Linked DNA regions of Homo sapiens. The protein of the gene in region 2 purifies or fractionates together with the protein of the main gene of each other region. This does not show direct contact. Each region holds a gene or a part of one and is shown on either strand. Other genes may lie near its edges.

What was found.
Region 1: the proteins of MAP3K1 (region 2) and AXIN1 purify together in Homo sapiens (affinity purification with western blotting; 5 studies listed by BioGRID and IntAct, with this or other methods). This does not show direct contact.

What each region holds. Positions count from the first base shown.
Region 1 is NC_000016.10:345,976-349,723, reverse strand, and holds part of AXIN1 (axin-1), read left to right. Parts: intron 1-2,617; coding exon of another isoform or gene 2,618-2,698; coding exon 2,699-3,576; intron 3,577-3,748. UniProt on the Homo sapiens protein: Component of the beta-catenin destruction complex required for regulating CTNNB1 levels through phosphorylation and ubiquitination, and modulating Wnt-signaling.
Region 2 is NC_000005.10:56,813,803-56,817,550, forward strand, and holds the start of MAP3K1 (mitogen-activated protein kinase kinase kinase 1), read left to right. Parts: upstream 1-1,746; 5' UTR 1,747-1,771; coding exon 1,772-2,253; intron 2,254-3,125; exon of another isoform or gene 3,126-3,314; intron 3,315-3,748. UniProt on the Homo sapiens protein: Component of a protein kinase signal transduction cascade. Activates the ERK and JNK kinase pathways by phosphorylation of MAP2K1 and MAP2K4. May phosphorylate the MAPK8/JNK1 kinase.

The DNA of each region.
Region 1 (3,748 bases), on a different chromosome or scaffold from region 2:
CAGTGTTTGGCGTCTGTGACAAATGTCTTTTCTTTTTTACATCAGTGAATGACTTACTGGTGCCCGTTAGTTGCAGGACCTTGTGCTGGGTGCTGTGGGTCCCGCTACTACCAATAATTAACACAGAAGACTTAAGTCCCTTATGAGAGCATGATGGTGACTTGTGGTTAGCCTCCCTTCTGAGCACTGTCTGATTAATCACTTTCCACTCTCCGGTGACTTGGTTCTTCAAGCTAGTGAATGGTAGTACATCTATAGTGGTAAGGCTCAGGTGGTCAGGGTGCAGGCCTTCTTTCCTGTGATGGCGTCCCAGACAGATGACCGTGAGCTAGTGTGGAGGTGCCCACGCCCAGGGTGCTCCCTCCATGCTGATGTGGCTCACGGAGTGACTGCCGCTGAAGTGGTCTGTGAGCAGCAGGATGTCACAGCTCACTGGGCCTTGACCTTTAGAAGCTGTGTGTTCCTGCTGAGGCCAAGATGACATACTACCCAGCAGCGTTCACAAAAAGTCCTTAGCTGCTGAAATGTCATTGGGGGCACATAGTTGCAAACCATCCTCCATCTATGGGTGCTTCTTATTTATTTACTAATTTTATTTTATTTTATTTTATTTTATTTTTTTGAGACAGAGTCTCACTCTGTCGCCCAAGCTGGAGTGCAGTGGCCGGCGCGGTGTCGGCTCACTGCAAGCTCTGCCTCCCGGGTTCATGCCATTCTCCCACGTCAGTCTCCCGAGTAGCTGGGACTGCAGGTGCCCACCACCATGCCTGGCTAATTTTTTGTATTTTTAGTAGAGATGGGGTTTCACCGTGTTAGCCAGGATGGTCTCGATCTCTTGACCTCGTGATCCGCCCGCCTTGGCTTCCCAAAGTGCTGGGATTACAGGTGTGAGCCACTGTGCCCGGCCTATTTTTTTTTTAGAGACAGGATCTTGCTCTGTTGCCCAGGCTGGAGTGCAGTGGGGTGCGATTATAGCTCACTGCAGCCTTGAACTCCTGGGTCAAGTGATCCTCTTGCCTCAGTCTTCCAAGTAGCTGAGACTACAGGCATACGCTACCATACCCGGCTAATTAAGAACTGTTTTTTGGTAGAGATTGGGTCTCACTATGTTGCCCAGGTTAGTCTTGAACTCTTGGGCTCAAGGGATCCTCCAGCCTCAGCCTCCTGAGTAGCTGGGACTACAGGTGCGTGACACCACGCCTGGCTCTGTGGATCCTTCGTGCTTCCAGCCGTGAGCAGCTGTTGGCTGGTAAAGTGTGTGCAATGTGAGGAAGTTGGTGTGGGGGACAGATTCCACATAGACAAGGGACAGCAGTGTGGAGTGGTGGCTGGGGGATAGATCCCCCTTCAGTTGGTCCTGGGTTTTAGGGTTTTATTTGTTTGCTGTGACTTGTTCAGCACTCTAGGCTTTTGAACCCAACATGCTTCTCTAAAGCCCTCTCTCCAGCCCCTTTTAGCCAGGACCACTTACATCATGGCAGGCTGTTGTTTCAGTCACCTGCATGGCCGGGTTGACAGGCATAGCCAGAGCTCCTGGGCTCCTGTAGGACGTGGCAGGAAGGACCATAGACCATGGCAGGGGTTCTGTTGGAGCCCTTATCTACTCTCTTTTGCACACCCCTTGCAGGCTTGTAGCAGCAGCAGCAGTAGTAGCAGCAAATTCTATAGTTCCCTGATGTCTAAGAGGGTGGGTGGTTTGGTTTTCAGCTTAAGGAGTGAAGTCACATGAACTATAGCTTCCTTAGCTAAAAATTGTATTTGCATTTCCTTTTATTCTGTACCTTCTCTGTTCCTTGAAGTACCCATTTACTATTTGCTATCTGAATCCTCATCAGAGAGGCTTTTCAGAGTCAAGTGCAGCATTCTGACAGAGCATTTTAAGATTGTCTCCAGTGACGGTGTCCGAGCGCCTCTGTGGGCCTGGGTGGTGTCCTTGATCCCTCGGTCGATGGGGCTGAAGGTGACCCATGATTATCTCTCTTTGAGGCGTGTGTTGAGAGTCGGAGGAACACCCTGCAGTGTGTTCTCATGTGTCGGAAGGTGTACCACGCGTGACGTGATGCAGCAGGTAGAAAACAGTGGCCGTGGGCCTGGAGGACGTGGGGTTCAGAAGACGCCCACCACCTTCGGGGCTGTAGCGCACCTTCCTTTCTCTCTGAGTGTTGCTGGGGCTGGTGGAGCGATTGTCTCCATCTTACTTGTGAGGGTCCAGCCCTCACTCAGGTTTGTACACATAGTCAGGACTAGAGGCAGCTTTCCTTCCTCCGGTCTTCCTGCCTTCCCTGTCCCTCAGCTCTGCAGCTGAGGTGGGAGGTGCTCAAGCTGCCAGCCTCCGTGATGTTTGTGCAGTGAGACTTGTGGGGAGTGGCATTCCCATGTCCTGGGCATCCCTTCTTAGCATGAGAGGCATTCCTGTAGTTGTAAAAGTTTCCAGAAATTGCTTTAAAGTAGAACTATGCTTGTGGCCAAAATATATCTTGATTGAACATTTAAACTGAGTTTCTTGCTTTGAGTTTGAGCGGGAGGGCGTCATCGTGAGTCTTGTCTTGAGAAAACCTCTGGTCGTGTTTCATGGACCCACCTTTCCTAATCCTTGTCCTCTTAATGGTTTCAACAGGACAGATTGATTCACTTTGGAGCTGTAAGTACTGATGTATTAGGGTGCAGCGCTCATTGTTCCTTGACGCAGAGTCCCAAAATGAATATCCAAGAGCAGGGTTTCCCCTTGGACCTCGGAGCAAGTTTCACCGAAGATGCTCCCCGACCCCCAGTGCCTGGTGAGGAGGGAGAACTGGTGTCCACAGACCCGAGGCCCGCCAGCTACAGTTTCTGCTCCGGGAAAGGTGTTGGCATTAAAGGTGAGACTTCGACGGCCACTCCGAGGCGCTCGGATCTGGACCTGGGGTATGAGCCTGAGGGCAGTGCCTCCCCCACCCCACCATACTTGAAGTGGGCTGAGTCACTGCATTCCCTGCTGGATGACCAAGATGGGATAAGCCTGTTCAGGACTTTCCTGAAGCAGGAGGGCTGTGCCGACTTGCTGGACTTCTGGTTTGCCTGCACTGGCTTCAGGAAGCTGGAGCCCTGTGACTCGAACGAGGAGAAGAGGCTGAAGCTGGCGAGAGCCATCTACCGAAAGTACATTCTTGATAACAATGGCATCGTGTCCCGGCAGACCAAGCCAGCCACCAAGAGCTTCATAAAGGGCTGCATCATGAAGCAGCTGATCGATCCTGCCATGTTTGACCAGGCCCAGACCGAAATCCAGGCCACTATGGAGGAAAACACCTATCCCTCCTTCCTTAAGTCTGATATTTATTTGGAATATACGAGGACAGGCTCGGAGAGCCCCAAAGTCTGTAGTGACCAGAGCTCTGGGTCAGGGACAGGGAAGGGCATATCTGGATACCTGCCGACCTTAAATGAAGATGAGGAATGGAAGTGTGACCAGGACATGGATGAGGACGATGGCAGAGACGCTGCTCCCCCCGGAAGACTCCCTCAGAAGCTGCTCCTGGAGACAGCTGCCCCGAGGGTCTCCTCCAGTAGACGGTACAGCGAAGGCAGAGAGTTCAGGTGAGTCCGACGCCAGGCGTCCACTTTCTGTACTCACCTCCGAGAGCTGGAGAACAAGCCAGGGAAAGGTGCTGATGAGGCGGGCGTTAACCCACACCGGATGTCCTGCTGCCGCTGGGGTTGAATTTTGGTTCTGTTCTTATTTGTGATACTTTTGCATTTGTCATTACTT
Region 2 (3,748 bases):
AGACCTGAGAAATAACCACTGTTTGGTTTGAATGATACATTTGACTGCCATTAAAATAGCATATAATTATAGCCTAAATGTAGACTTAATTTTTAACAGATTTATCTGAACTTTCAAAATTTGTACCGTTGGGTGTAACGATCTAAAACTATCTTATGGGAGATGTTACAGCAGTTTTCAAATCATTGAGCTAATATGAAATCTGGACTTTTTAAAACCCCTCTGATCTAACCTGGTTACGCAGTTAACATTGTATCTGGGAAAGGGGCTTTCATTTTACCTAGTCTCCAGAAGTCAATGGAATTATTCTGTAAATAGTTCAGGCTTTTGTCTAAATATGTGAAGACTGACAAGACTATCTCCGTGAGAATCCGCACCCCCCCACCCCAACCTCCCCCCTCCTTAATCATGTTTCACAAAGTAAATCTATAGACGTTCCTCCTGGGTTTTGGGAGATTCCCCATCCTAAACAAACCAGCTGGAGGAAAGGAAAGGAAGGAAGAAATAAACGCAACACAGAAGTTCTCCTCAGTTGACAAAAGGTCAAAAATCATTAACGTGTAAATGTTGCTTTTTCCATCCCAAAGCACCTTCTCACGTAGAGTCCAGGGACTAGGAGGACTCACAACGCAGCGATGGGCAGCCAGGCCCTGCAGGAGTGGGGACAGAGGGAACCCGGCCGGTGGCCCGACCCTGCAGGGAAGAAGGACGTGCGGCGAGAAGCATCGGATTCGGGGAGGGCCGGGACCTGGCCGAGGGTGACATTACCGAGCACTTCCTGGCACAGCGCTGGTCCCCTCCCCAAACGCGCTATATGTGGTTCTGTACGGGACTGCCTTTCCCAAAGACAGCCAAGGAAAAACTAAAGATCGACGGGGACACCCGCCTCCCTTCCTCGCCCCAACGGTTTCTCAGAGGCTGTGGGGACTTGGTGAGGGTAGGGGGTAGTTGTCCCAAATCAGCAGCTTCAGGATGTAAGGTATTACAGAAAACTTTGAAGTTTTGTTATCTGTAGCACAGGGACAGGGGTGGGACAATAGAGAAGGAATGTTTTCTTTTCAAAAGAAAACACAAACAAAACTTTATTTTTCTGGTCCGCGGCAGCCTGTCTGCTGAACGTTGACTTGCTTTCGCTTTGCAGCAGGCGACGGTCCCGGGCGCCACCTGCGCGTCGGTGGGAGGCTGGTCCACGCCCGGGTCCCCCGACGCCCACTGCAAAGGGCAGTGGGAATGACAGACTGTAAACCCTCTCGCCTGCGTCCCCTTCAAGCACCAGAAACCCAAGTTGGAACTAATTCTTTCTTTCGGAAGGTGCAACTCCCCTCCCGCGAGCTCCGCGGTGCCGGGCCGAGATTGCCGAGAGGAAGCGGCGCAGCGCTGCCGCCAAGGCTCCTCCTGTCGCCGGTGCGGCCGGGACTACCTGGCGGCGCGGCGCGTGCAGCGCGCAGAGTCCCGGGAGCCCACGCCTCCGCCTCCGCCCCCGCCCCCTCCGCCTCCCAGTCCACCTCGCCCGCCCGCCCTCTCGCCCGGCGGAGAGCACAGCCCACTCCCTCCCACCTGCGGCCGCCGGGCCGCCCTCCACCCACACCTCTGCCGCAGGCCGGACCCAGTGCGCCCGCCCGTCGGTCAGTCCAGGCCAGGCGCCCGGCGGGCCGCGCTCACGCAGTTGGCGCAGGAGGCCTTACGCTGGCGGCGCAGTGCCCGCCCCCTGCGCTCTCCCCGCCCCCTCCCTCCCTCGCAGGGGCCGAGCGAATGTAGCCCGCGAGAGAAAATGGCGGCGGCGGCGGGGAATCGCGCCTCGTCGTCGGGATTCCCGGGCGCCAGGGCTACGAGCCCTGAGGCAGGCGGCGGCGGAGGAGCCCTCAAGGCGAGCAGCGCGCCCGCGGCTGCCGCGGGACTGCTGCGGGAGGCGGGCAGCGGGGGCCGCGAGCGGGCGGACTGGCGGCGGCGGCAGCTGCGCAAAGTGCGGAGTGTGGAGCTGGACCAGCTGCCTGAGCAGCCGCTCTTCCTTGCCGCCTCACCGCCGGCCTCCTCGACTTCCCCGTCGCCGGAGCCCGCGGACGCAGCGGGGAGTGGGACCGGCTTCCAGCCTGTGGCGGTGCCGCCGCCCCACGGAGCCGCGAGCCGCGGCGGCGCCCACCTTACCGAGTCGGTGGCGGCGCCGGACAGCGGCGCCTCGAGTCCCGCAGCGGCCGAGCCCGGGGAGAAGCGGGCGCCCGCCGCCGAGCCGTCTCCTGCAGCGGCCCCCGCCGGGTGAGCAGCACGGCCGGGGTCGCGGCGGGGACTTGGAGAGCGGGCAGAGGGCAATGAATGAACCCCGGGCACCATGCACGGCGTCCCGGGGTTCAGCGCAGCGAGGCTACGCGCCGCTCGCCGGGACCTACGCCCCTGAGCACCCCCCGACCCCTTCGGAGTCGGGCGGCGCCCCGGACCCAGCCTGGGGGACCGGACGGGGACGTGCGGAAGAGTTTGTTATTGTTTGCAGACATGTGACAGGCGTGCGAGCCTCTCTGCGGGGAACCGTTGCGAAAAGGTGTAGGGGGCCACGGCTGGCTTTGTGGGACTCCTGGAATCGGGGCTCTCCGAGGAGCCCGGGGGCGGGGCACGGCCCTGCGGCGGCGCCCCCGGACGGGTGTCCCCGGGGCAAAGGCACTGGGGGGCGAGGCCCGAGCCTGAGGCGGGCGGTGGTCGGAAGAGGGGCGGGGTGGGTGAGAAGCCCGAGGTCGGGTGGGAGACTGAGAGGACCGAAGAGAAAGTAGCAGGTCCCAGCGGCCGTGACAGGCAGAGCCCCTCGGCCCGCCCGGGACTCGAGTCCCTAGGCAGATACCGCGGGCTGGGCCCGGACGCAGGCGGCGCGCCCCCAGCGCCGGCCGCAGGGCTCCAGGAGGACGGCTCGGTAACGCCTGTCAAAGCCGTGCGGCGGGAGGCTGCACACTCGCGGAGGCTTGCAGTCTTTTAGGAAGTGCGGTTTGTCTAATTGCAGCCCCCAAGGGGCTTTGAGTGTTCCTGGGAATGCGAACTGCACTGCTAAGTCACTTGAGTGACTTCTGTTTGGAGTTTGAATTTGGCCTTTGAAGTTTGCATTTGGCGGAGTGGTGTAAGAGCCAGGACCGGATGTGTCAGCCATTCAGTTTCAAAGCAGTGGTGACTGCTCCCCGCAGCCCCTCCGGCTTGGCCCGGGGACTGCGGCGCGGGTGCAGTGCTTCCTGCTCGGTGCCCTGGCGCGGGCCGCCCGCTGAATTCCAGGGGCCGCAGTGCGGTGGGCTTCGGCTCAGATGCGTCTTCTGGTGCATATGAAGTACAGTATGTGTAAGGTAATTTAGACCAGCGGTTTATTGGCCTCGCCCATTTTTGGCTACTGGAAATTTTTATGTTAAAGGAAATTCTTTTAAGTGTGACAGCTACATCCTTGTTTGTTTGTTTTTTAAAAACCTGATTAACGTATGCAAAGTACAAAGTCTTGATGGGTATTTTGAGTTGCTGGAAATGTTTTTGTGATAGTCCCTCGTGGCCCTGTAGAATTCCCTGACCTTTATTATGAGAAGAAAGCGTGTCATTTTGTGAGACGAATTTGACAGTAGGAGTCCTTGGTTTGGATTCATTATCTAAAGTGATCTGGCATTTTTTGTGCATTTGATTATTTGCTTAAAATCACGATCCATTTAGTATTTGGAAGTCCCCTTCCTCTCCCCAAGAACTAAAAAATATGCTTCGCACTGTACCATGGCACTACTGAGACCAAAGGAGA